4 linked regions of the Homo sapiens genome follow. The protein of the gene in region 3 purifies or fractionates together with the protein of the main gene of each other region. This does not show direct contact. Each region holds a gene or a part of one and is shown on either strand. Other genes may lie near its edges.

Region 1 (7,265 bases), on a different chromosome or scaffold from region 3:
TGGGATTACAGGCATGAGCCACCACTCCCAGTCATGAATTTTTAACATCACTCTTTGAGTTATGTATATTAGAGAATAAAAAGAAGCATATGAGTAAAGCACCAAAAGGGGCCCACAAGAAGTCTTTCTTGACTCTTGAGGCTAGATTAGATGCCCAACCAGTATATATACACACACACATATAATATATATATATACACATATATACATGTATATATTATACGTATATACATATATATGTCTATATATACATATATGTATATATAATACATTTGTGTGTGTGTACACACATACTATTGCAACACTCATGACATGGTGGTGTTTTCATAATTAGCGTGTAGATAGTCAATATATGTGGGCAGAAACCCATGTCTGTCTTATTTACCGTTAGTATTTGCATTAGCACAGCACGTGTCTACATAGTATGTGCTTTACCGATACAAGTGAAGAATGATAATCAACAAAGCAAACAATCTTTGATAGTGAGATGAGAAGCTATAATAAAGCTTATCTGTCTGTTGCTCCTGATTGCCTTTTCTCTGTTCATCTAGAGTAAGAGTAAATAGAAGAGGCTTATTCAACAATATTCTGTATTTATAGAAAGACATTTTAGTAATACTCTTTCCTCTTTTAAAAATTACAATAACTATTGTTAATGACTAATCTTAATTTATATATACAACTTTTAAACAGGTCAAAGAAAGTATCTGTTCCATCAACTGTGATATCCAGAGTGATTGGAAGAGGAGGCTGTAATATCAATGCTATTCGGGAGTTTACTGGTGCACACATAGATATTGATAAACAGAAAGACAAGACTGGAGACCGGATAATCACTATAAGGCAAAACTTTGTCTCTTACATTTTCTTCCTTTATTTTATTGCACTATAGCTTAATGAAATACAGCCATATGAGTTTTCAGTGGAACTTTGTGTTACATAGTATACTTTTTAAAATGGGAATTTTATTAGTGTTTGAGAAGATAAATTTTATAGTTTTCTTTTTTCCTAGGTAATACACTTTTGTGAAGTGTTTCAGAGACTTTTATAGGAATTTGTATGCATGTGTAGCAAAGGTTTAAATAAATAATTTCTGTACATAAACTGTTTATATGACATTCTTAAAAATTTGTTCTGAGACTTTTAGGGAGCGCATTTCTAACATTTTAAGCAGTGGGTTTTTGTCTTTCTCAAATAACCTTTGAGATTTGTTATTCTGAGATTGTGTCTTTAGAATTTGAGTTCTTGGGCTGGGCACGGTGGCTCACGCCTGTAATCCCAGCACTTTGGGAGGCTGAGGCGGGCGGATCACCTGAGGTCAGGAGTTCGAGACCAGCCTCAACATGGGGAAACCCCGTCTCTACTAAAAATACAAAATTAGCCGGGCATAGTGGTGCATGCTTGTAATCTCAGCTACTCGGGAGGCTGAGGCAGGAGAATTGCTTGAACCTGGGAGGCAGAGGTTGCGGTGAGCCGAGATCGAGCCATTGGACTCCAGCCTGGGCAACAAGAGTGAAACTCCCTCAAAAAAAAAAAAAAAAAAAAGAATTTGAGTTCAGATTTGAATCTGAAGTGAAGATATAACTTATCTTGAATAACTCGTCGAATATGTCTATGCCTGAATATTCTTAAAATAAAAGTGATGTTCTAAGAAATCATAAGAATGTAGGAAGCTATATTTAATTACTTTAAAGTAAATTCATGTTCCTTTGAAAAAGAGTTTTATATTTTTTACATGGCAGATATAAGTTTGTATGAGGCAGATGCCCCTTTGCATTATATAGGAGAGCTAATAGTTACATCATACCTCAAAAATAAGAAAGCAAGTAGCCATCTCTATTTTATTCATCGTCCTCTCCTTCTGACTGGTTTTCCCCTGGGTATTTGGGTAGTCACAGCCTATCTTATCTAGAAAAGAGGGAACCAGATACCCTTTATTGGTAATTGCTCCCTTGAGTTTCCATAAATATCAAATATTTTCCTGAAGATCCAGCACTAAGGTTTTATATGGCTATTTTTGGCACTATCAGGATTCCTGCATCATTTTAAGACATCTTCCCAGAGGAGTTACAATAATTATCCTATTAATAGACAAACTACTAATGAATTTTTAGTAGACGGAGTCATCCCAGATACCAAGATTTAAAATAAAATACTGTTTTCTTACTCAGTTGTATTATTTTCCTTGTTTACTTCTATTATTTTTAGTGTTGATTAACTGTTTCAATATTTTTAGGATTAAATGTTTCAATAACATTGTGGATTACATAGGCTTTTATGTGCAGTGGTTTTTCTAACTGTAGTGTATTTTACAGTAGGAAAATGGTTTCTTAGTCTAAGGAAACAATAGTGAAATGTATTTTTGAAAAATAAGTCATTTACTATTCTTCTGAAAAATAAAAGTAGTAATTCAGGACAGTTTATTGCTTTGTTTGTAGAATACCTCAGGAATGGTAAGAAAATTGCTGCCCAGCTTTTGTTATCTGTCCTTTGTTTGTATGTGTGTATGTATATACACACAAAACTGTGTGTGTGTTTGTGTACATAAATACATATTAAAAACACTTTACATACTCAAAAGTAGGGAAAATTCTACCTAATTTTTTTTTCTCAATTTATAGGGGTGGCACTGAATCAACAAGACAAGCAACTCAATTGATTAATGCTTTGATCAAGGATCCAGACAAAGAAATTGATGAACTTATTCCAAAGAATCGTTTGAAAAGCTCCTCAGCAAATTCCAAAATAGGGTCATCAGCACCTACCACCACTGCTGCTAACACTTCCTTAATGGGAATTAAAATGACAACTGTAGCTCTGTCATCAACATCTCAAACTGCCACAGCACTCACTGTGCCTGCAATTTCTTCTGCATCCACTCACAAAACCATTAAGAACCCAGTGAATAATGTGAGGCCTGGTTTTCCAGTTTCTCTTCCATTAGCATATCCTCCTCCACAGTTTGCACATGCTTTGCTTGCTGCTCAGACTTTCCAGCAGATCCGTCCACCAAGGTTGCCCATGACCCACTTTGGAGGTACTTTTCCACCAGCTCAATCCACTTGGGGTCCGTTTCCTGTCAGGCCTTTGAGCCCTGCCAGAGCTACTAACTCGCCTAAGCCTCACATGGTGCCTCGCCATAGCAATCAGAATAGCAGTGGTTCTCAGGTGAATTCAGCAGGTTCTTTAACTTCAAGCCCAACAACTACAACCAGTTCATCAGCTTCAACGGTGCCTGGTACATCTACAAATGGCAGTCCAAGTTCACCTTCTGTCCGAAGGCAGCTTTTTGTCACAGTTGTGAAGACATCCAATGCCACCACAACAACAGTCACAACCACGGCAAGCAACAACAACACTGCACCCACAAATGCCACATATCCTATGCCTACTGCCAAAGAACACTATCCAGTATCATCCCCATCTTCCCCATCACCACCAGCCCAGCCAGGAGGGGTTTCTAGAAACAGCCCTTTGGATTGTGGATCAGCATCTCCAAATAAAGTGGCATCTTCCTCCGAACAGGAAGCAGGTAGTCCACCAGTAGTAGAAACAACAAACACTAGACCTCCAAACAGCAGCAGTTCTTCTGGGAGTTCATCAGCTCATTCTAATCAGCAACAACCTCCGGGATCTGTTTCTCAGGAACCAAGACCACCTCTTCAGCAGTCTCAGGTTCCTCCCCCGGAAGTTAGAATGACTGTTCCTCCTTTAGCAACAAGTTCTGCTCCAGTGGCGGTGCCTTCTACTGCCCCAGTGACTTACCCTATGCCTCAGACACCAATGGGATGCCCCCAGCCTACTCCTAAAATGGAAACCCCTGCTATTAGACCACCCCCTCATGGCACAACTGCCCCTCACAAGAATTCAGCTTCAGTGCAAAATTCATCTGTTGCAGTCCTCAGTGTCAATCACATTAAAAGACCTCACAGTGTTCCCTCTTCTGTCCAGCTACCTTCGACCTTAAGTACACAAAGTGCTTGTCAGAATTCAGTACATCCAGCAAATAAGCCTATTGCTCCCAATTTCAGTGCCCCCTTACCATTTGGGCCCTTTAGCACATTGTTTGAAAACAGCCCTACTTCTGCTCATGCCTTCTGGGGAGGATCTGTTGTTTCATCTCAGTCAACACCAGAATCTATGCTATCAGGAAAATCCTCATATTTGCCAAATTCAGATCCTTTACATCAGTCTGATACTTCCAAAGCTCCAGGTTTTAGACCACCATTACAGAGACCTGCTCCAAGTCCCTCAGGTGAGTTTATATTTTCTGAGATTCTGCAGCTGTTCATTTGCACAAGTGATGTGAAAATTCTTGGTCATTTTCTAATATTTTTATTCTCTGGACGATATAGACAAAGATTGTTGGATTTAGTTAACTCAGATGCTGTTGTTTGTGTTTAGTATGGTGTTATTTTTAAAAATCTTTTTAAAAGCTACCATAGATTTTTATTTAATTTTCCATAAATAAGTCTTCTGATCAGGCGGGGTTTTTTTGTTTGTTTGCTTTTTGAGACAGAGTCTCGCTCTGTCACCCAGGCTGGAGTGCAGTGGCATGATCTCAGCTCACCGCAACCTCTGCCTCCCAGATTCAAGTGATTCTCCTGCCTCAGCCTCCCGAGTAGCTGGGATTACAGACGTGCACCACCATGCCTGGCTGATTTTTGTATTTTTAGTAGAGATGGGGTTTCACCATGTTGACCAAGCTGGTCTCGAACTCTCAACCTCAGGTGATTCACCCACCTTGGCCTCCCAAAGTGCTAGGATTACAGGCGTGAGCCACAGTTCCTGGCCTAGGCGTGTTTTTCTCTCTCAGAAGTCTTTCATGTTTTAATTTAATAAGGTACTGTCACCAAAAGTTTACATTTATTACAAATACAAAATAACAGATTTAAAAAATTGGGTTTCATTTCGCATTATCTTTTTTATTTCTAAAATAATTTTAAAAATAGAGCTACACAGTCTGATATGGTAGCCAATAACCATGTGTACTTTTTAAATTTAAATTAATGAAAATTTTAAAAATAAAAAAATTAGCTTCTTAGGCTACCCATATTTAAGTGCTTAAAAAACACTTGTGGCTGGTAGCTACCATATTGGACAGCAAAGATCTAGAACATTTCTATTATCCAAAATTCTACTGGGCAACACTGATATATGTAGAAGATACAAAGATCTCCTGATTGTAAGCTATTGCTTTTTTAAAAAAAACTTTTTACTTTAAAATATTTTTAGATTTATAGAAGAATTCTATAATTCCTCAGCTTCCCTTCATGTGACCATCTTACATAACCATGATACATTTCGAAACTAAAAAAATTAATATTGGTGTAGTACTACTAACTAGACTACAGATTTTAGGCAGATTTCACAAGTTTTTCAAGTAATATCCTTTTTCTATTGTAGGATCTAATCCAGGATGCCAGTTTCCATTTAAAGCTGTTGGGTTTTAATATAAGCATTTCAAGTAATTAAAGATAGTCCACGTAAGAGATGGACACACTATGGTCTATGGGCCAAATTTGGCCTGCTGCCTGTTTTTACATTTCTTAAATGTTTAAAAAAAAATTTTTTTTTTTAAGAATAGGCTTGGCACGGTGGCTTGTGCCCGTAATCCCAGCACTTTGGGAGGCTGAGGTGGGTCGATTGCTTAAGCCCAGGAGTTCCAGACCAGCCTGGGCTTAAGGGGAGACCCCATCTCTACAAAAATATAAAAATTAGCTGGGCATGGTGGTGCATACCTGTAGTCCCAGCTACTTGGGGGGCTGAGGTGGAAGGATGACTTGAGCCCTAGAGGCAGATGTTACAGTGAGCTGAGATCACACCTCTGCATTCCAGCCTGGGTGGAGACCCTGTCTCAAAAAAAAAAAAAAAAATTTAAAAAGAATAAACATGCAACACAAAATATGAAATTTTAATTTCAGTGTTTGTAGAGAAAGCTTTACTGAAACACAGCAATGCCCATTCATTTGCATATTGTATAAGGCTACTTTTATGCTACAATGACAGAATTGAGTAGCTGGGACAGAGACCATGTGACCTGCAAAGCCTAAAATATTTGGTATTTGGCTCTTGGTTGCCAACTCGTTATCTGTGTTATTGGAAATATGACATTCCGGGACAAAAATTTCCAAGTTTAATGGGAACTCAATGTTATTTTTACCTATTTCTGTAACATGTAAATAAAATTTAATGAAGGTGGTCAGTAAATATTCTTTGCTAAAAGTCAACTGAAATATTTATGTGTACTATGAAAAATAATTTATTTTATATTAAAACAATAGAATCAATATAATTAGATTTTAGATCATTATGTGCCAGTGCGTAGGAAATGCTTTAAGTTTGATTTTTATAGTAGTTGGAATTTAATACTTTACCTTTCCAAAAATGTGATAATCTAGGTGTGGGATTCAGAAAGGCTAAAATTAAGCTTTAGAGAACAAAAAAATAAATTCCTATTTTTTGAAAAGGTATAGAAGAAAGACCTCTGTAAGAAAGGTGAGGTTTTTAGGGAGTGTATAGTTGATGAGAGCCAAAATTAGCATTGAAGTTTAACTTACAAGTCAATTACCTAATTCAGGTCATTTTGAGTTAAAGATACTCCTTTTATTACATAGGAAGTATGTCCTTTTATTTTCTCCTAAACCTCTCTCAGATCCTAATTTTCACTTCTCTCTACTTCTTCCTAATTCATTTTGTGTTCCATATTTTTCTTCCTTTGTTTAACTTTTCTTATGTAAATAATTTGATTATTTGTATTTTAGACTCAGATCTGTTTTTATAGTTTGTATTTTGAAAAGTTATTTAAGTCACATAAAGATCTAAGGACAGAATAAGCAGCATAGTAAATACTTGGTATTTCCACATTTATTAATATATTCTCTGCTTGTTAACATCTTTTCAAACTCTCTCCCTCACTCCCCTCCCTTCCTCTCTCCCCTTTTCCTTCTTCCCTCCTTTTTTTTCCTCTCTTTTGCTGCTTCCTTTTCTTCCCCCTCTCTTGTCTTGTCTTACCTGTCTCTCCCCTTCTTCATCCTTCTTTCCTCCTTTTCCCCCTTTCTATCCTATCTCTATTTTCTTTTCTTCCCCATCTTTTGTCAAATCATGAGAAGATAACTTTCAAACATGATACTTTACCCCTAAATACTTTGATATGGATCTTCACAATGTTTGCCTTCACAGCTATGCCACTATTACTGCACCCAATAAAATGAGGATGAATTTGATAATAACACCCAACATAAAATGCCATTTTCCCAAATATA
Region 2 (7,292 bases), on a different chromosome or scaffold from region 3:
TTTCCTGTAGCCTGTAATAAGAGCTAACATTTACTACTCAGTGTCTGTTAAGTACTCATCCTGTAACATCTTACTTACTCCTCACAACTGCCCTATTACGAAGGTACTCTTATTGTCCCCATTTTACAGATGAGAAAGCTGTGGTGGAGAGAATAAGTAATCCCTAGTGACCAGCAGGGATAGAAGTAGAACACAGATCTGTCTGATGGCAGAGCCAAATAAGCTTTTTTTTTGAGACAGAGTTTCGCTCTTGTTGCCCAGGCTGGAGTGCAATGATGCAATTTTGGTTCACCGCAACCTCCGCCTCCCAGGTTCAAGAGATTCTCCTGTCTCAGCCTCCTGAGTAGCTGGGATTACAAGCATGCACCACCACGTCCGGCTAATTTTGTATTTTTAGTAGAGAAGGGGTTTCTCCATGTTAGACTGGTCTTGAACTCCTGACCTCAGGTGATCTGCCCACTTCGGCCTCCTAAAGTGCTGGGATTACAGGCGTGAGCCATCATACCCGGCCTCAAATAACCTCTTAACTATTACAATCTACTGCCTTCCCCAAAGGTCAGATTAAAAGCACAAGTTAGCAAACACAGCACCCTTTACAACTGGCCTTCTGAGAGGGCAGTCTTATCTCTCCAGCTGCTCAAGCAACCTACAATCCCAGGAAGAGAGGGGCACATGTGCCAGGCACTTCTGCGCCAGGCAGAGAAGCCCAGGCCAATGCAGGAGCTTGCCATCTGGCACTGGTTGCACATGGTGCTTCCTCAGCAAAGATCCATCGCCCCAGCACCAACTCTCCTCTCTCAGAAGCCTAGGTTTGTCTCCGAAGAGTTCTCCAGCCCTTCAGTCGCTCCTGTCCTCCTCCTTCCCTCCTCTACTGGGACTCCAGTGAAATCTTTCTAAAATATGTAACCAATCATGTCATTCCTCTGCTTCAGACCTTTTCACTTGCTCCCGGCTGCCCTGGGCATGATATCTCAAATTGCTAATATGGCATTCTTTCATGAACCTATACTGCTTCACTTGCACCATATCAACTTCCATACCACTAGATTGAACAATCTGAGATTTCTGGAATAAACTATGAGTTTATTTGTCTATCTCGCTCTCAAAGTATTCATTCTCACCTGGCTAAGCCTCCCCTCCTCTCCTTTTAGACTCAGCTCCAGCATCACTTCTGCCAAGCCTTTTCATGGCACACTCCCGTCCCCACCCCACCCCCAAGGCTGAGCTCACAGCTTTCTCCCTTTCTCCACTGGGCTCCCACAGTACTCTCTTGCTGCTGCTATTAGCTTCTTCTTCTTCTTTTTTTTTTTTTTTTGAGACAGAGTCTCACTCTGTTACTCAGGCTGGAGTGCACTGGCTTGATCTCGGCTCACTGCAACCTCTGCCTCATAGGTTCAAGCAATTCTCCTGCCTCAGCCTCCCGAGTAGCTGGGATTACAGGCCTGTGCCACCATGCCCAGCTAATTTTTCTATTTTCAGTAGAGATGGGGTTTCACCATGTTAGCCAGGCTGGTCTCGAACTCCTGACCTCAGGTGATCCGCCCGCCTCGGCTTCCCAAAGTGTTGGGATTACAGGCATGAGCCACGGCGCCCAGCCACTACTAGCTTCTTTAGACCACATTTCAACCATTTGTTTACAGGTCAATTTCCCTTAATTAGACTGTATGCTCCTTGAAATAAAAATAGATAACATTTATTGAATTCTTATTACGTGGCAAACATGGTTGTATGTTTTACATGTTAACTTTTTACTCTTCATAATATCTCTCTCTGTTATCATCCTTGTTTTATAGACGAAGACACTGAGGCACAGGGAGACTAAGCAATGTGCCCAGGTACACACAGCTGGAAAGTTGCTGAGCCAGAATTTGAACTCAGGAAGTCTGGCTCCAAAGCCTACTCTTAACCACTATGCTGTCTAGCACTTGCCTCTAGGCAAGGACTCTTGTTGTGGTCATGTGAGAAATGAATGAATGAATGAATGAGGACTGTCTAGATTAACCCAACCAACAACTTGCACAGCACGGCCATTAGGAAGCACTAAAGGAGCTCACAGGCACTGTTTACAAACAAGATTATTTTGGCCCTACAATTACACATTCTGCTCTTCCTTATCTCACGCAAAACTACTCAAAGAGGGAAAGGCGCCCAGCCCAGTATGCCTACCCTCTTCCCCACTGGTTCTCAAAACCAAAGCAAAGCCAACCGGTTTCCTCCAGTGACTTAAAACAGAGCAAAGTCTATCCTGCCACACAGAGGGCGGCTGTCATCTCTTCCTTCCGCTAACAAAAGGGCTTCAAACCTGGGGATTGGGGTGGGCAGAAAACTCGGCATCAGGAATCCGAATGTCCCTACCTAACTGGCTGGAAGGCGGGGCCAAGTGGCGTGGGAATGGGCGGGCCTGACCGGCTCGGCAGGTGAAACACTGACCACAGCAAGCTCTCCTTGGAAAAGGCCGGCCAAACGTGGCCTTGGCAAGCAGGTAGCTGTGACTCGTACCTGAACGCCGCCCGGGATATGAAAATTCCCCAGCAGCGGTAGCGCCCGTGCCAGAGTGAGGGCTCTTGGAGGAAGCCCTGGCTGGCCCTCCCTGGGGACTCGTTCTAACTATCAAGTCACCCTCGGGATTAGGAGGGAAACACGGAGAGGCAGAAGGTGTCTTTTTGGAAAGATCTGGCTGGATTCACACGCCGGTTGCTTCACTCACTGGCTGGGTGACTCTAGGCAAAGCTGGCAGTGCCCACTTCCCAGAGCTGCGGCGGGGACTGAAGCTCCCGCGGCCTCCCGGTACCCGGCGCGAGGCAGCCCTCGCCCCTGCCGCCGGGGAAGGGCAGAGCCCCAGCGGAGGAGGGGGCATTCGCCGGGGCCATTTCTGCTGCACTCAGATGGCTTCAGGCTGTCACTCCGATTCCACCGCCGCGGCCGCCGGGGCCCGCCCCGCCTACCCGCAACCCCCACCCGGCTCCCCGCTCCTGGACCCCTGCCCTCACCTTCGCCGGGTGGTCAGAGCTATTCGCCCATAGTCCGTAGCCCAGAGCCGGGGCTGCTCGGCTCTCCCTCCCGGGGGGCCGGGGCCGGGCTGGAGGCGTGCGAGCCTCTCACCGCCGCCTCCCAGCGCAGCCACCCGAGCCGCCGCCGCCGCCGCCGCCGCCTCCCTCCATGGCTGCGGCGCCGCCACCTGACAACGGAAGTGACGCACCGCCCCCCTCCTCCCCAGCCTTAGCCGCGGCCCCGCCCCCCCGGGCCCCGCCCTCCGCCTGCGTCTCCAGCCCCACGGCTTTCGGATTGGGGCGCCATCTTGACGATGGGCGGAAGACTTCAGGCAAGAGGCCAGAGTCCGATTGAGGATTGGTTCAGGGTGGGGTCTGGGCGAAACCTGTTACACGATTGGAGGCCGAGGCTCTAATGGGGCGGTACTTACTGCTGATCTATATCTGCGGCGAGGCTGGGACGGAGGCACCGCCCCGCCCGACCCCACAGAACCTCGCGGGCCCTACACTCCCCCTGCCGAGGTTGAAGTCCCCAGCGGTTGGAAGATCGGCCAATTGTAGTGTATTTATCAGAAAAGTGACTCATCCTTGATCCTCATTTCCCGGTTTGTGGAACTCTGTGAGGAAAGCCCTGCAGTTAGGCTCAATAAAAGACAGAAATTCCTGTCGCAGCGCTCATAATTCATTTCCCTCTAGGTCTGTCGCCTTTGTAGAAACCCCGAGGATGGCAACCTTCAACCTGGAGATCCCTGAAGCCTTGACCAGGGAGGTTTACAGTGAAGCGTTCCTATTAGCGACTACAGCTATCTAACCTCAGTTCCTCCTGCTGCAGTTTCGGTCCCTTTCTCCTCCTCCTCCAGCAACCACGCCCTCCATGAATCAGCTTCTTGCACCAGCAGATGAGCCCTTTAAAGGGATTGCATCAGGCAAGTGACTCACTGGGGCCCTCTAAGAGCCTGGCTTCCCTCCCTTGGCATGCAGAAGCAGCTAGAAGGGCTCAGTGGCAGCAGCACCAGCGGCCGTAGCCCCACTCCCTTGTCCCAGAGGTGTGAGTCAGGGTGTTTGCTGCTTATGATGTCTAACTCTTGGCTGTCTTTCCAGCTGTCCCCTGGGTCACTCTATATCCATGTGTGGGCACACGTGTCTAAGCTTGTGTGCACTGCTGGGTTTTCCTAGGGTGTGTGGCCACTTGTGTGTATGTGCATTTGTCATCTCCACATAGGCAGTGCCAGGACACAAGAGCTGATATGAGTGAAGTCTGGCTGCCTCTACCTGTGTCCTTTGTCTCTGAATGCCTGGTGCCCACTGAGCTGCTGATAGGGCTGACTAACAAGAGTAATCAGGACAGCTCCCACCGTTGTGCCACACTCTGCATGGAGCACTTGAGACAGTATTAGGTAGGAGGCTGTTTACAGCTGAGGAAGCCAGTGCTCAGAGAAGGAAATTAATGTGCCCAAACACACACAGCTAATAATGGCAGGGCTAGGATTCAAATCAAGTCTGATGGATTCCAAAAAACTTGGCTTTGAATCCCTGCTGCATCACTTACAAGCTGGGTGACTATGTGCAAATTGCCCAATCTTCCCCTTCTGTCCAAACAGGGATAACGCTTGGGGGATCACTGTGAGGACTCGGAGTTATAGAAACAGCTTTTTGCAAGACCCAGCGAGCACTCATACTCATCTCAGTTGAAGGGCTTCAATGAGGTGGGTGACCAAAAGACAGGCATAAAGAAGGCCCCAGCCCAGCAAGCTCCACTCTCTGACAAAACAAAAAGCCTAGGGATTCCGGAAGCCCTGACTCTGACAAAAATGAGTTCTGGGTTTTCCAGAGCTCTAATTATCAGCTAGATGAATCACTCTGCGCTGACACCACCATTCCTACCCCCAGGAGACTCTCAGCTGATTGAAAATCCAGGATTTTAACAAAGGAGAGGAGGAGGAACAGAAAGCTAGGAGGAGAAGAAGTAATGAATAGAAACCAAAGGTGCCAGCCAGAGGAAATGAGAAACTGTCATCAGGACACTACCATGAGGAGAACGCTGGGACACACACACACACACACACACACACTCACACTCACGCTGACATACTCTTGCTGGCTCTCCAACTCTAGGCTTACGGCAGACGGTGCTGCCATAACAAAGTGACGCCTGTCACAACAGCATGAGATGGTGGCTTGACAAGGTATAGGCAGATCTGCCTATCACAGAAGGAGGGAAAGAGACCTTCAACCCCCAGGGGCTTCCTCAGGCTTCTGAACCCTCGTCTCCATTACTGGTTGGCTCTGGCTTCTCTTTGTCACCAAATCGCAAGGCCTAAATCTGGCAAATTTTGAGTGTCAGACCTACACCCTGTGGCTAGGTACCACCACTGTGGTGAACAAAGGCACCTCTTATACTCTGTCATCAGTATGATGCCAAGAGTGCTGGGAAACAGAATAGCACAGCAGTTAAGATCATTGAGTTGGAGTCACACAGACCTGAGTTCAAATCCCCATTCTGTTGTTCACCTTGAGCAGGCCACATAACTTCCTTGAGCCGGTTTGCTCAAATGTAAAATGGTGCTATTAATATATGGGGTTTTTATAATGATATAATAAGATTACTTTCAGGGCTGGGCGCAGTGGCTCACTCCTGTAATCCCAGCACTTTGGGAGGCCGAGGTGGGTGGATTGTCTGAGGTCAGGAGTTCGAGACCAGCCTGGCTAACATGGCAAAACCCCGTCTCTACTGAAAATACAAAAATTAGCTGGACGTGGTGGCTGGTGCCTGTAATCCCAGCTACTTGAGAGGCTGAGCAGGGGGAATCACTTGAACCTGGGAGGCAGAGGTCGCAGTGAGCCAAGATCGCACCATTGCACTCCAGCTCAGGCAACAAGAGTGAAACCCCATGTCAAAAAAAAAAAAAAAAGGATTATTTTCATTCCACAAGATTGATGGAGTGCCCACTATGTGCAGAGCACTGAGCTAGATGCTGGAGATTCGGCATAACCAGACAACAGCTCTGCCCTTGTGGAGCATCAGAGCACCCAGCACAGGGCAAGTAGTAAAATTCAACAAAGAGTAGCTATTTTTCATTTATTTTATTTTAGAGACGGGGTCTTGCTGTTGCCTAGGCTGGAGTGCAGTGGCACAATCACAGCTCACTGCACCCTCAAACTCCCAGGCTCAAGAGATCCTCCCACCTCAGCCTCCTGAGTAGCTGGGACTTACAGGTGTGTCCCACCATATCCTGCTAATTTTTAAAAAAATTTTTATAGAGACAGGGTCTCACTGTGTTGCCAGGGCTGGTCTTGAACTCCTGGGCTCAAGTGATCCTCCCACCTCAGCCTCCCAAAGTGCTGGGATTATAGGTGTGAACCACTGCACCTGGCCAGTAGCTATTTTTCATGACCATTATGGTGCCCATCTTGGCACTCTGCCTCTAACTTAGCCATGGGACCTGGGGAGAGCCCCTTTCCCTCTCTGAGCCTCAGTTTCCTCAGCTGTAAAATGACAGAGTTGGACTGGGTCAGTAGCAGCAGTTCCCAACTTTCCCACCTTCAAAGCCTTTTTTAGTCTTTTTCCCTCTGCCTCCACACTATCCAGAATCTGGTGGGACAGTAACACTTTGCATTGTTTTTCATCTTTTCCTTGGTGTTCTCCCTCCTTCTCTTACACAGATAAGTTACTCTGTATTCATTACTTCGGGAAACAAATGATACAACAGAATGCAGGGCCTATTTTTAGCTTCTGAATTCCAAAAGCTTAGCTTTCAGGGAGGAATGGACAGAATTTCTGTGCAGACACACATTTAGAAAACTATAACGGGGATCTGGGAGTCTGAGATTGAGGAGGGGGGTCCCTGAGAAGAGAGAAGCTTCTCCTCAGTCTTGTAACTGGGAATATCATCTGGGTCCAAGGGATTGAGAAGCAGAGAGGAGCTGTGCTCCTTTTCCTGGGTGGGGCACCAGGGAAGTCACAAAACCCTCTGGAGAAATGGCTGCATGCTGCATTTTGGACAAACAGGGCCTAACTCACCTAAGACTCAAGAATTTCCTAGGCCTAACATGGCCTGGGGAAAGCAGAAAAACAAAACAAAACAAAACAAAACTCTGCACACCTGAGAGGGGTATGGGTTACACTTGGAGGGGTCTTTTGGTGGGGGGATGGGGAGCAACTCAGCAGCAACCTTCATGGGCTGATGACAAAAGGTCACAACCAGATGAGAACATCTCAGTGGATGCTAGTGTGACTGGATGACCAAATCAGACTATGCTTCCCATGCTTTGGCACCTTGAAAGGAAGAGCCCTAGAATTCC
Region 3 (7,265 bases):
AAACCACCACCAGAAAGGCTTCCAAACAAAGCTACTCCTCAATTTTCAAAACTATACAAAGATTTTGAGCTTGCGGTTCTGCCTGGAAGGTCTATTTAGGAGACTCTCCAATGGGACCATTTCACCATTACTTAAAAAAAAAAAAAAAAAAAAAGTGCCCAGAAAGGTAATTAAATTCCCCATAGAGCCATATGAACCATATACAACTTGTTTGCCTCCAGAGTCTTACAGCTGACTTTACTCCACGTCATTAACATATCTCAAATACAGATGCACAAAGCTTATTTTCTACTATACACCAAAATACTATATATATACACATCTCCCACGGCAGAAAAGACACCCTGATACCCTACTCTTTACACAAAGTCAAATATTTTCTTCCTCAAAATCAAGTAAACACAAACTAAAATAAATGGAATAAACTTTTAATCATACAGAGAAAATAATTTTTGAGAATCAGGACAGGATCTTCCACTGTGTTCTCTTACAATGTAGATGTCTTGGCGACCACTGTCCCCAGAGGAATGAAAATCCACCTTTAAAAACAGAACCTTTTATACAGTTTATACAGCACAAATCACAAATCACTTTAGAAACAAAAATGTGTTATCCTAAATTTAAAAAAAAAAAAAAAAAGGAAGCGAGAAGAGAGAGAGGAACGGAGTATTTTAATGCTATCAGTTTCTATTCAGGCTTGATACAACATAAAGAAGATGTAAACATTTAAAATAAATAATAAAATAAATGTCAATTTCTTCTCCCCCTCCCTTTCCCATAACCCTCTCAAAATTTGATCCAGCCCCTCCTGAACATGTCGTCAAGCATTGGATAAATTAAACCCCTTGGTTGATGTATGGCCAAAACACTAGAAGCATAAGAAGATGCCAGATTCATAGTGGGATGACTGGGTTTCCTTTTAAAAAGCTACAGGACACAGGCACGCCTGGAAATGTATACACACATGCGCACACACACAGCCCAACCTGTCAATAAATAGTGAGATGCTGGCTTTTAATATGAATGCCAAAACAACTCAACAAGCAGAAGGTAGCAAAGACTCCTTAAGTTTTTTAAAGAAAATTCACACATCACATATTCTATTGGTCCCCAAATTCTCTAAGGACTTGGGTTACCCCTCTGACCATCTGAGGAGTGCACGGGAGCACATGGTGGGGTAGAAGGAGAAGTATGGAGTGGGAGAATATTGTAGGGGATAAGTCCTTGAGAACAAACATCAGACTGAAGGCAATCTTACCTTGGATCTTGAAGACAGACCTTCTCACCTCTAAGTGTTTCTGTTTATCCATTACTTAGGGGCCTTTTATAAAGAGATGTCCTCATCCCTTAGTCTCATCCTAACGAGGATCTATATAAAAGCGCCTAACACAGTGCCTGGCACATCGTAGGTGTATTCTTTTCCTTCCTAAAGGGGGCACAAAGATGTCTGATCAGGAAAGGAAATCGACCTGAAAGTTAAATGGCGAGATTGCATTTGCACTGTTGGTCCATCAAGGAAAAGAGAAAAAAAGTCCCAGTGCTCCAGACAATTCAACCACACTTGGAATCAAGTGAGAGGAGAGGGAGATTCCTTTCCCCAGAGCCTGAGAAACAGAAGCAGCAGCCCCAGATGGCTTTTGACTTTGAGATGCTTGTGTGACACACCTGGCCCCCAACACAGGCAGAATGATGTTTGACTCTGAAAACCTCCCCAGTGAATTATCTGCTTGGAGCCGGCTCCAGCAATTTCCTAAGCCTCAGCCGGGATCGCCTCTCCTTCCTGTGCCAGCAGCTTCCCCCATTCAACTGGCCAGGGAGAGGACTATTCGCAGAAAGACTGGCCAGGAGGCCAAGAAGACGGTGTGTTTTACACGAGCTGATCAGAGCGCCCGCCCTGTGCCGTCCCAGAGCTGCCTGCAGCCCAATCGGAGTCCACACCTCCGAGCTGCCTCGCGAGTGGAGCCACAAGAAGCACAGAAGTTCCTAAGCCAAACAGAAAGGCAGCCCCAATGCAGCTGTTCCCATAGCTGGAGCCATGGAGGTGTCTGGTGATTCTGGAGCAAGGGTGTGTGTGTGTATGAGAGAGAGAACTTGGAGGGCAAGCCATAAGGAAGTAAAACTCAGGATATGCTCACGACTTAGGTGTGAATATTCAGTCTTCCCCAAATCAAATCACCTCTGACTTTGGGGAAGCTGAACGACCTCCTATGACAAAGCCTGGGGGTCTTCACAGGGCACGTAGCTCAGAGTCCTCTTACAGTCCTGTGTGTTGGCTGGACGTTTGCCTTCTGCTGGTCCCAACACCAACACAGCTTGAAATCTGAACTGAAGCCAAGTTGTGCCTCAGGAATTTGTCCAGCCTGGCCACAAATCAGGCTGTGACCTGCACGGGGATCTTTGCTGCACAAAGTGGGGTATAAGGGGGCTTTTAGAAATAAAAGACAAGAAAGCAGCTTCATTTAAGAAATATCTATATGCACAAAAAAGAAAATAGCTCCCACTTGGCTACAAATACCACTTGAGATGATTACCCCTGTGAGAGCTGAGTGCACCCCAGTTTTCTTTGCCCATCTCCTGCTACTCCTGGCTCATTCTGCTGCTTGGATTCATCTCAAGCCAGAAACCCAACTGCCCAATCTTCTTAGAAGGGTCCCTCCCAGAGCCCCTGGGAAATCGGGAGAGGGGCATCACAGCCAAGGGATGCAGGAAATAACATTTTTAAAGTATTTTAAACAAAATCCTTTTTCTTTGAAACCCTCCTTTCTGCATCACTTGTACAGGTCACTTCCAGTCCCACTGGCCCATGTACTTTAAGCATACGGCTGTTCCACTCTGTGTGTCTAGTGCACGAAAACAGGTCATGTTCATGAAATAACATGCGAGGGAACAGCTGTGTGAATGTGTCACTGCTTTCTCCACGGGGGATCTTAATTATCTTTCAAACGAGGATACTGTGACCTCTAGAGCTGAATCCCCAGCAGCAGAGTCTTTGCAGAGCACAAGCCCCGCAGAGGCTGGTTCTGGCCAGGAGCTACTCCCTGGATTCCTGTCAAGGCCCTGCTGGACAAGAAACTCAGCAGGAGCCATACCCTGGGGAGAAAAGGCTCAGAGGGGTGGGCAGCAGGGACCCTGCTGAGCTGTGCTCCTGCTGGAGGCCAGGGGGACCCTTCCCCAACCCCGTGAAAGGGGGCAGCTCTCCTGCAGTGGGAAGCAAAACATCCTATCTCCAATTCCAGCAGCCAGAAAGATTCAACAGACAACCAGGAATGGCGCATGAGCCACAAGCCACAGCGACAGCTCAGGCCAGCTGTTCACAGCTTGCTTGCTGCCTGGGCCAGAAGAGTGCACTGGGGTGGGGACAGGGGAGTGTAAAAGAGAAAGCACTTGATCCAGCAGGTGGCAGATGACCACAGAGGGCAGGAAAGGCCCGGTGCCCTGCGGGGAGGTGAGCAGCCAGGACAGGCTGAGCGGGTGCTGGGGCAGCAGCTGCTGCAGACGCCACTCCAGTGACGGCCTCCCGCCTCCCTCCCCTGCCTCTCCATCCTCAGCAAATGCTTCTTTGAGGCTTGGGGAGGGGCTGCCTGGCAGCATCTGGGGAAGGTCCAGGCCCACGCTCATTAAATCTCTGTGGGTGGCGTCACCCTGAGAGCCAGGGTGGGGGAAAGGCGGAGCCCGGCAGGGACTTGGAGTATAATGTGTGGCTCCTAGGGAGGGACGCCTCCCTGGTCCGGAGAGAAGGGTCCAGGGGCAGAATGGCAAGGCAGTAATTACAGGAGACGCCCTACTCAAGACACCAGGTGAAGGGAAGCTGGCTAGGACACCCGTGTGGCTTTGTTGGCATGCTTCCTGGCCTGGTAATTAGGCGTTTGGCAAACCCAACCTGTGCCCCACTGTCTCACTCACACCCTGTCTTCTGGCCAAGCCGTTCCTCCAGAAGCCGTCTCCGAAGGTGGGCAGGAAGGGTCCTCTGAGCCTCCCAGTGATGGCAGCATCTCCTTGAGAGCTCAGGGAGCCCCGCTGGGAGTTCTGGAGATGATGACTGGGAGGCGTCAGGGTAGGGAAGGCTCTGTATTGCACTTTGTCCCCTTCTGGACAAGTCAGCCCCAGCAGAAGAGCCACCTGCTGCCCCATCTCCAGAAATGAAGAGCTTTAATATTCAGACCACCCAGATGAAATGTCATGGCAAATTTGATAAAAACCAAGAGGGAGTGAAACTGACGCTGGGGGAGGAAAGGGTCAAGTCGAGGGAAGGTGAAACCAAAAGGCACTGAGCATGCGTGGTGGGGCAGGGAAGGACACCATCACTCCAGAGACAGTATGGTAACAAAGGGACAGGAATGGTCCAGGCCAGCTTCAGGCTCTTCAGAAGCCAGAGAGATGTCCAAGTCTACCAAACCGAGTTCTCCAAGGCTTTTCAAGAAATGGGATTTGCTTGCAAGATGAATGAGGGAGGAGGTCCCATGGCTTCTAAGAGATCAACCCAAGTCTTCCAATACTCACTGCTAAGTCCCACCTGGGTCCCCCAGAGCCAGGAAGCTCCCTGGTGGCAGGTCCCCCTCTTGCCCTCACGGCCCTGGAGCGCTTGAAGGTGCTGGTCCCTGGGAAGGAGGAGCGAGGAGGACCCCCTCCGGAGCTGGGGAGGGAGGTGCACTGGGTTACAGAGCCAGCAGAGTGGGGGAGTTCAAGGAGTCTGATGATTGGTCCCCGCTGCTACTGCTTCTGCGGTGAGCCTTGGAGCAGGATTCGGAGGGAGATGCGGGTGACTCCTGCTCCAGGACGCTAGGATAGGTGAAGACGAGGTTCGAGGTGCCCGGAGTGACAGCAGGTGTGGAGGTCACCACGATGGGGGTGTGCAGGGGCTCCTCACCGTAGAAGCCCCCAGCAATGCTGATGGGCTTGATGACAGAGCGCTGGGCCTTGTCCAGCCCCGCCGACGAGGACGAGGGGCTGTCCTCTTCCAGGGGCTCCTGTTTCACCACTACAGCGCCCACCGAGCCACCCCCACTGCGCATGGGCTGCAGCCCAGGGGCTGGGGGCGATCGGCGCTCCTCGGGGCTAATCTTGCACACTGGGCCGTGAGCCACCAACATGAACTCCAGCTTCTCCTTCTCCTTCTGCAGCTCAGCAATCTCCTTCTGCAGGCCTGACTTCTCCTCCTCCAGCTCCTCTGTCTCCTGCCACGGAAAGAGAGGGATGTGAGGGACAGCAACCTGCCAGGGACCAATCTAGGCAGGAAAGAGAAAACCAGTAATGTTCTCAGACACTGTGAGAGCAGAGGCTCACACACCTAACCACAGACCCCGCTGGTCTGAGTCTCTCAGTCACCTGGAGGCTCAAGATTCCTTTCATTTCCAAAGAAGGAAAGTCAGCTTGGAGAGGGGGTAAGACAACAACTGCAGCTGCCATAACCCAGCACCTACTTTGTGCAGGGCACAGTGTTAAGCATTTCAGAGATGATCTCATTCAATCTTCCAGGAGTTTTTTGGAAGCAGATGTTATCATCGCCCCATTTTGCAGATGAGGAAACTGAGGTTCAGAGGGGTTCTGTTAATTTTCCAAAGTCACCGAGCTAGCAGGTGGGGTAGCCCAGATTTGATTCCCAATGTATCTGACTCCAGGGTCTATGTTCTATGGCCTTGGTGCCAGGACTGCCCCCTCGGTACCCCTGAGGGGTGAGTACTGCAGAGATCTGCATGGAGAAGGGGGTACGGAACACAGCTCTACCCACCTCTCTCCTTCTCTTACTCCCCAACCCCATGCCAGCCCACCTGTGGATGGATAAACGCTAAGCCCTAGGCTGCTAGAGAGTGGAGACTTTGTCATGCACACTCCTGTATCCCTAGCACCTAGAACAGTGCCTGGCTTCTCAGAAGTGCTCAGCAAATCCCTGTGGGATTATCACAGCCTCTCCTCCTCCCTTTTTTCACTCCAATTTCTTTCTTTTTTTTTTTTTTGAGACAGAGTCTCACTCTGTCTTACCCAGGCTGGAGTGCAGTGGCATGACCTTGGCTCACTGCAGCCTCTGCCTCCCGGGTTCAAGCTATTCTCCAGTCTCAGCCTCCCGAGTAGCTGAGACTACAGGCACCTGCCACCACACCCGGCTAATTTTGTATTTTTCATAGAGATGGGGTTTCACCACATCGACCAGGCTGGTCTTGAACTTCTGACCTCAGGTGATCCACCCGCCTCAGCCTCCCAAAGTGCTGGGATTACAGGCATGAGCCACGGCGCCTGGCCTTTTGCTCCAATTTCTTAAGCACATATTTCAGGACTCCCAGAACCCTCAGAGAACATTTGGTTCAGCCACCACGCTTGACACAGAAGTAACGTGACAGCCCGAGAGGGCCTGTGAGGATGCCAGGGTCACCCCGCAAGGACCTCAGCCCCCTTCTTTCATCCCCAGCCAGAGAAGCAGAAGCGAGCAAGTGCACGTGGAGGGGCCGCTGTGGGAGGGGAAGAGGTGTGTGTCACCAGCCTCCTCCCCACGTTTTCCCTAACATGGATTCCTGTTCATCAGTGAGGACATACGGGCAAGGGCTTCGTTCAGCAGAGGACAGCATATTCCGGAGTGAAAAACAGTTTCCGTCTGTCTCAAGGGTCTGACGAACGTCATGAGCTTCTGAGAGGCTTCCTGTGGAGGATGTGGCTCAGGGGCCTGGGTGGCTGGGTCAGAGGGCGGGGGAGGTGGGGGAGGCAGGGGAGTAGGGTGTGAGGCCTCTGGGAGGAGGGAAGGAAAGTAGAGGAGCCTCAGGGGGCAGGGCTATTCCGGGGCGGGTGGTGAGGAGCGCCACATGGGGCACAGCTCCTTGAAGTGCCAATCACAGAAAGGTTAGTGGTGGGAGGGCCCGCTGAGGAAGTGGATTGTGGATCTGCCTCACCTGGGAATGAAGAATTCCCACTCATCCTCCCCGGCTCTAACACCTCCGAGGGCCATTACTACAGGCATCACAGAATTCACGCAATTCAATTCATTCAACACCCCAGAGTGAGGGCTGCAGGACAGAGAAAGACAAGCCTAAGTGGGTGGATGGTACCTGGAAACATTAACTCAAGTGAGGGGATGGGCCAGGCGTGGTGGCTCACGCCTGTAATCCCAGCACTCTGAGAGGCCAAGGCAGGCAGATCACCCGAGGTCAGGAGTTCGAGACCAGCCTAGCCAACATGGTGAAACCCTGTCTCTATTAAAAATACAAAAATTAGCCGGGCATGGTGGCAGGCACCTGTAATCCCCGCTAGTTGGGAGGCTGAGGCAGGAGAATGGCTTG
Region 4 (7,401 bases), on a different chromosome or scaffold from region 3:
CAGATCTGAAACTCTCTAATTGCACACAAAGAAAACACAAAGTTGAGAACTGGGAAATCTGAGTTCTCATTTTGTCCTTACCTGTCCAACGACAAACAAAATTACTTCTCTGTGCCTCAATGAGAAAATAATTAGTATTGTATTAAAAATAAGTTATATATAACATCACAGAATTGTTCTAAGGATAAAATAAAACGTGAAGCATAAGCATATCTTTAAAATGTCCCATAAATGAATAAGAAATTATCATTATTTGAACTTGGGCTTCGTTTAAATATAAAAGCATAGAATAATTTGAATTGGTTCACAGTTTGACCTTGGGGCATACAAGACAAGACCCACAGCCAAACGGGGGGAAAAAAAAAGAAAAAAAGGATTCCTTGGGCCTTGCCTAATCCATATCATCCTACCCCAAGAGTCTGGACAAAATCAAACCTGGCTTGAGTTTTAAATCAGATTCTCATTAATTAATTCTTCTGAATATTAAACCTCACCAGAAAAAGAAATAATTAACTAATGAGATTCTTAGAAAGTGAAATACTCAGGACCACGGTGGCTCACACCTGTAATCCCTCCCAGCACCTTGGGAGGCCGAGGCGAGCAGATCACCTGAGGTCAGGAGTTCAAGACCTGCCTGGCCAACATGGTGAAACCCCGTCTCCATTAAAAATACAAAAAATTAGGCAGGTGTGGTGGCAGGTGCCTGTAATCCCAGCTACTACTCGGGAGGCTGAGGCTGGAGAATTGCTTGAACCCGGGAGGCGGGGGTGGCAGTGAGCCAAGACGGTGCCACTGCACTCCAGCCTGAGTGACAGAGCAAGACTCCGTCTCAAATACAAATTTTTACTCTTTTAAAAAAAGAGTTCCCAATTCCCTATAGCATAGCCTGCAGTGCACTGAACTTCATATGGTGCCTGGCCGACAGTGAATGTCATACAAGTATCTCTTGAATGACAATGATCGATTCCTTATTCCTCACATCTTTTACTTTATTTTAGTGTACTTACACGGAGGCTAACATGTTTGTGTTCGTTAAGTATACTAAAAATTAAAATGCAAACAGTGGCTAAAAAGACAACTAAATTATGCACACCCCACTTTGTTTTATTAGCTTATTAGCTACTCGCACTATCGACTGTGTAGAAGTGCAAACACTTCTCAGCCCCAACCATAAACTGCTTATTTATAAATAACAATCATATTACAGCCCAAATGTTCAATGAAAAACAGATTAATTCTGATAAAGAATAACGTACAAAAAAGCAGAAAGGTGAATAAAGACATCATTTTTCTGCAGGAACTAGAAACCGTAAGTCTAATCAATAACTTTCCTAACAGTTCCAACTTCTAGCTCTATCTTATTTAATAACACCAACTCAGACCATCTTCAACCCTGATCTGAATCAACTTCCCTCATAATGACTGTGCAAGCAGCCAACTTCCTACATGCCTAATATTTGATCAACAATTTCCTCAAAAAGGAAAGTACGAAACACTACCACTTCTTAAGCAGCTAGCTAACAGCAATTACTTCTCATAATCCTACCAATATCTAAAATCCAATAAAAATTCCAAAACACTCTCAAGCAAGACAATCAACACCACCTTTCACTTCATATGACTAACCTCTCTATCCCAAATGTCATGACTAAATGTTACTCTGTATCATTCAAGATGCCAACTATGACGACAAAATGTCTATACCTAGCATTTCTCAAGTCAGAAGTTCCAGTATACTCTGTTATCCAGTATAGTACAGTTACATCTGACACAGGGATGTTATTTAACAAACGTGGTTCTCTCTTTTCAAGACACTTGGTGGAGAAGTGAAAAATCTGTTAACAGACTTTGACTACAGTCGTCTCAACAGCCGATTCCTAAGTGGCCCATCCTTTGAAATGGAAGAAGATATTTACACATACATACGATAGGTACTTACATTATTATAAAAAGCATGTCTTTATAAGACATCCATGCTTATGTTTACAGCATCATCTACCATACTTCAAATAAATTTTGACCAACTCCACCCCTCTGCATCCGAGGAAGCTTAGTCCTCTCCATTTGCAAATTTCATTCATCTCAACAAGGACTCCTGATTGACTGAGTGTTCAATTCATCAGAGAGGCAAAAATTTTAAGACTCAACCTCTCTGCCAACTTTGTTATCCAAAACCATTTATTTGACCTTCCACCTCTTCCCTCGTCATTCGTTAAACTCCCTTCACTTCCTCCTCAGCAACACTTACCTACCTCTTTATTATCCCCACCCTGCCTCGCTACTCCAACATTCCTTCACCCCACCAACCAGGAGCTCGAATGCCTGCAAACGCTCGATTCCCTCTGCAGACACCACCACAGCACCAGTATCCCAAGCTCTCCAACAAGCCACCCCCACACCAGACCCCCCGCCCCCAAGCCTAAGCGGCAGAAACTCATAATTTAGGGACAAGGAGGGAGTGCTCTTCAAACCCACCATACGAAGTCGTTGCTTTTGTCCTCGTAGGAGTTGATGAGCCCGTTGCAGAGGGGGGCGAGGAGAGGTCGCTTCCTGCTGCCGCTGCCTAGGCTGGAGCTGCTGCCTCCTACGCCGGCGCTGGGCCTGGCCGCGCAGCTGTGCCGGGACAGGCCCGTGGACACCGCCCCGCCGCCGCTACCCGATACGGCGGGCGCCACCAACACAGGCCGCACCGGGCCCCCGAGGCCGCCCGAGCCGGCGGCCTGGGCCACCCCGCCGGACACCAGCGCTGCCGCCGAAACCGCCACGGAAGGCGGCGACGGGGAAGAGGATAAAGACGAGGAGGCGGAAGTCACCGAGGAGGCCGCCGAGGACCCGGGGCTTGTCCCAGCGGAGCCCGACCCGGCCTGGCGGCTACCAGACATCGTGACTCCCTCCCCTCCAGCCGGGCGCTCGGAGGAGAGGGACCGCGACCTCGACCCTCCGCCGCCTCCCCTCCCCTCAGCCTCAGTGCATCCTGAGGACGCCCGCCGAGCCGGAGGTGGGGCTGAGGAACAATAAAGTTGCGTTTTTTTTTAAGGCAGCCACACAACAGCGTCCCACGGGAGGGGGCGGAGGAAACTAAAAAAGCGGAGTAGAAGGCACTACCGCTGTCGAGGCCGCCGCCGCCACCGCGGTCCCTGTAGCAGCCAACCCCGGCGCGCCGTGGCCGGCCGTGCGCGCGCGCGCGAGCGGCGGAAGAGGCGGGCGTGGCGGGGGATACAACTGGGGACGCAGCGGGGCTGCGCTCAGACGCTCAGGGCGCGCCCTCGGGGTCGGGGCTCCCTGGCGAAGGGAGTCTGTCTGTCCCAAGCCGCTTTCGTTCCAGAAAACGTGCCAGAGGGCAGGCCGTCTTAATACAGTGAAAGAATTGAGGAGACTGGAATGAATGGTATAGGTGGTGGGGTGGTTTGAAAGACGGGAACGTAGCGGGCGGAAACTCTCGAAAAGCGACTGCGCAGGCGCGCGCCGGGCGCGGACGCTCACGGGTCACCCAGGGTATCCGCCCCAAGCGGAGAATATCGGCGCAAGCGCGGAGTAGCCGTGTCACGCATGCGTGCGAACGCACCACATTCCGGAACGGGAAGAAGGAGCTGTCTCTCTCTTCTGAGGGGTAGGCAGGTGCTTCCGAATCGCGGAATGTAGGTGCTCATAAGCTGGAGACCCACGGAAAGAACCTAGAAGCTCCGAGCGGTTGCAGACAGCACTGCATTGAGCCAACGACTCCTGCTCTACTGATGGTGATTCCACAGCTTTGTGAGGAATAAGTTAAGATGAAGTCAGTGAAGTTTTCTGCGAATTGCAAACATTGTAGCAAGTGTTACCAATTTTATTAGTTCGACCACGACTTCACTCCTATATTTTGAAAAGCTGTTTGCCAAATTGAACATAACAATAATGGGAAAACAGATTTTGCTCAATCAGACCCAGCTCAGTCGGAACCTAGGTTTATTGTGGATCTGATATAATTCTAGCACAAAACAAGGAAACCTAGCATTTAATACCACCAGAAAATATACAATTTCTGGTAGGCTTTTTTAGAATATTGAAAATTGATTATAGGCGGGCGCGGTGGCTCATGCCTGTCATCGCAGCACCTTGGGAGGCCTAGGGGGTCGGATCACCTGAGCCTGGAGGTGAGGATCAGGCTGAACCTGAGGTTAGAGACCAGCCTGGGCAAGATAGCGAAACCCCGTCTCTACAAAAAGTACAAAAAATTAGCTGGGCATGGTGGCAGCAGGCCTGTAGTCCCAGCTACTCGGGAGGCTGACATGGGAGGATTGCTTGAGCTGGGGAGGTTGAGGCTGTAGGGAGCGGAGATCCCTACACTCCAGCCTGTGAGACAGAGACCCTGTCTCAAAAAAAAAAATTTTTTTCATTTGCCGCATTCTAAGGGGTGGGAGTTAGAAACAACTGTGTGATTTTATCCTTTTCAATTCTATCATTCTATGATTCTTATATATTTATTTGGGAATAAAGTGTGAAAATACTCATGACTTAGTAAACTACGTGCGTATTCAAGGAGGTAAAGGAAGGCAAAGGTTTTTAAAATTTAAAAAAAAATGAGAATTACATAATTGTTTTTAAACCGTTATCCTTGGCTACGAAGATCAATAACAAGGTGACACCAGTCGGAAACTGGACAGGAAGTTGCTGGGCAGATGTTTTTGCGGAAGTATTTTTTGTGTAAGATTGTGGCTTTTGGCCAGGTGCGGTGGCTGAGGCCCATAATTCCAACACTTTGGGAGGCCAAGGCGAGTGGATCACCTGAGGTCAGGAGTTCGAGACCAGCCTGGCCAACATGACGAAACCCTGTCCCTACTAAAAATACAAAAATTAACCGGGTGTGGTGGCATGCACCTGTAATCCCAACTACTCGAGAGTGTGAGGCAGGAGAATCGCTTGAACCCAGAAAGCGGAGGTTGGAGTGAGCCAAGGTCGTGCCACTGTGCTCCAGCCTGGGCAACAGAGCAAGACTCCATCTCAAAAAAAAAAAAAAGATTGTGGCTTTTGCAGGTTTTTGTGATAGTTTTTGTCATCAGGTGTGCAAGCATGAGACCCCTTCTCTTCATGACCTCTGAATCTATTTTTCAGTGTTTTAAAAAATATATTAGTGACTACCTCCCACCCCCTTTTGTTTAAGAGATGGGGCCCCCCACCCCCTTTTGTTTAAGAGATGGGGCCCCCCACCCCCTTTTGTTTAAGAGATGGGGCCCCCCCACCCCCTTTTGTTTAAGAGATGGGGCCCCCCACCCCCTTTTGTTTAAGAGATGGGGCCCCCCACCCCCTTTTGTTTAAGAGATGGGGCTGGGATGCAGTGACTGTTCACAGGCAAGTCTATAGCACAGTACAGCCCCCAAATTCCTGGGCTCAAGCAATCCTGCTGCCTCAGCCTCCCAAGTAGCTGGAACTGTAGGTGTGTACCACCGAGCCCATATAATTCCATTTTGATTACGACAGCTTTCACGGAAATTAGGCATTAAGTAGGGTAAAAACATTTATAATGTTTTAAAGATTAATTTTTTAGGAGATTAATCTTTCAGAAGAGGTGGGAAATTAGGAACAAAGACTAGGAAAAATTAAAGCAGTTCGAGCGTAAATGATAAGATTCTAGATTAGGATGGTGACAAAGAAAGGGAATATTCTGAGAAAAACACTAAGGAACTGATGGTATAAAGTTTAATTACTCTCTGTAAAACTGTCTTTACCATCCTTGAGAGTATGACCCATATCTGTCATATTCATCACTGTCTATATCAGTGCTTGACACAATGGTCAATATGTTGATTAAGTAAAAATGATGAAACACAAACAGAAATGACTCCAAACATGACTTCTGGGTAACAATAACGTAGTGACAAGATTGGAGGTGTCCAGTAGATGGTTTAGTTTTGAATGTTTTGAATGAGTGTGGGATGAAAAAAACTCAAAGAATAGGCAGTGGTCGAAAACACAGGGTTAAGGCACAGAAGAAAGTTCAGCACATGAGAGACATTTGGAAGTTACTAAGGGCATAGTATATCATCATCAAATAGTTATTATGGACCTATTATTTGCTAAACATATTGCTTCCCCCATGATTCTCAAACATCGGTGCCCAGAAGAATCACCTAGAGAGCTTGTTAAAAACCAGATTTCTGAGCTCCACCTTATGAATATGCATTTGTACCAGCACCCAGGTGAATCTGAGGCAAGTGACTAACACTTTGAAAACACTGTGATTGGCCGGGTGCGGTGGCTCATGCCTGTAATCCCAGTACTTTGAGAGGTTGAGGTAGGTGGGTCACTCGAGGTCAGGAGTTTGAGACCAGCCTGGCTGGCATGGTGAAACCCCGACTCTACTAAAAAAATACAAAAATTAGCTGGGAGTGGTGGCATGCTCCTGTAGTCCCAGCTACTTGGAAGGCTGAGGTAGGAGAATTGCTTGAACCCAAGAAACCCAGGAGGCAGAGGCTGCAGTGAGCTGAGATCGCACCTCTGCACTCCAGCCTGGGCAACAGAGTGAAACTCCGTCTCAAAAAAAAAAAAAAACAAAAAACACAACACTGTCCTGTGATTGATAATGTAGAGAATGTGAAAGAGTTTCCTTCCAGGCCAGGTGCAATGGCTCACGCCTGTAATCCCAGCCCTTTGGGAGGCTGAGGTGGGTGGATCACTCAAGGTCAGGAGTTTGAGAACAACCTGGCCAACATGGTAAAACCCCATCTCTACTAAAAATGTAAAAAATTAGCCAGGCATGGTGGCGCATGCCTGCAATCCCAGCTACTTGGGAGGCTGAGACAGGAGAATGGCTTGAACCCAGGAGGTGGAGGTTGCAGTGAGTCGAGATCGTGCCATTGCACTCCAGCCTGGGCGACAGAGTGAGAGTTTCCTTCCAAGTTGCTTATGCTGAGGACTGCTGTGATTTGAATGTACCCACCAAAACTCAGGTTGAAATGTAATTGCCATTGTAACAGTGTTGAGAGTTGAGACCTTCAAGAGGTCTCATGATTAGGTCATGAGGAGTACTGTTAGTTATTGCAGGAGTGGGTTCCTAATAACTGGATAAGTTTGGCTCCCATCTTGCCTCTCTGTCTCTCATGCTGTCTTGGGCCTTTCACCATGAGGTGACCCTCCCCATATGCAGGCACCGTGCTCTTGGACTTCCCAGGCTCCACAACTGTGAGAAATAAATTTATTTTCTTTATAAATTACCCAGTCTGTTGTATTCTGTTATAGCAGCAGAAAATGGGCTGAGACAGAAAGTAGTATGACCCCAACTGAGAAGTCTCCTAGGGGGAAAGAAAAAAAAATCATCAGTTCTTAGTATTACCTCTTTGGAATGTATTTTTTATAAAATCTAAATTCACAAAAAGAAGCTGAGAGTATGTGATGCAATAGAGCTTCATTTTTGTACCAGATAAA

The links.
Region 1: the proteins of FOSL2 (region 3) and ANKRD17 purify together in Homo sapiens (affinity purification with mass spectrometry; 4 studies listed by BioGRID and IntAct, with this or other methods). This does not show direct contact.
Region 2: the proteins of FOSL2 (region 3) and STK40 purify together in Homo sapiens (affinity purification with mass spectrometry; 4 studies listed by BioGRID and IntAct, with this or other methods). This does not show direct contact.
Region 4: the proteins of FOSL2 (region 3) and COP1 purify together in Homo sapiens (affinity purification with mass spectrometry; 5 studies listed by BioGRID and IntAct, with this or other methods). This does not show direct contact.

The regions. Positions count from the first base shown.
Region 1 is NC_000004.12:73,087,657-73,094,921, reverse strand, and holds part of ANKRD17 (ankyrin repeat domain-containing protein 17), read left to right. Parts: intron 1-693; coding exon 694-843; intron 844-2,621; coding exon 2,622-4,255; intron 4,256-7,265.
Region 2 is NC_000001.11:36,382,733-36,390,024, forward strand, and holds the start of STK40 (serine/threonine-protein kinase 40), read right to left. Parts: upstream 3,193-7,292; 5' UTR 2,991-3,192; intron 1-2,990. UniProt on the Homo sapiens protein: May be a negative regulator of NF-kappa-B and p53-mediated gene transcription.
Region 3 is NC_000002.12:28,409,839-28,417,103, reverse strand, and holds part of FOSL2 (fos-related antigen 2), read right to left. Parts: intron 6,632-7,265; coding exon of another isoform or gene 6,529-6,631; intron 5,226-6,528; coding exon of another isoform or gene 5,175-5,225; coding exon 4,656-5,174; 3' UTR 1-4,655.
Region 4 is NC_000001.11:176,204,097-176,211,497, forward strand, and holds the start of COP1 (E3 ubiquitin-protein ligase COP1), read right to left. Parts: upstream 3,191-7,401; 5' UTR 2,883-3,190; coding exon 2,476-2,882; intron 1-2,475. UniProt on the Homo sapiens protein: E3 ubiquitin-protein ligase that mediates ubiquitination and subsequent proteasomal degradation of target proteins.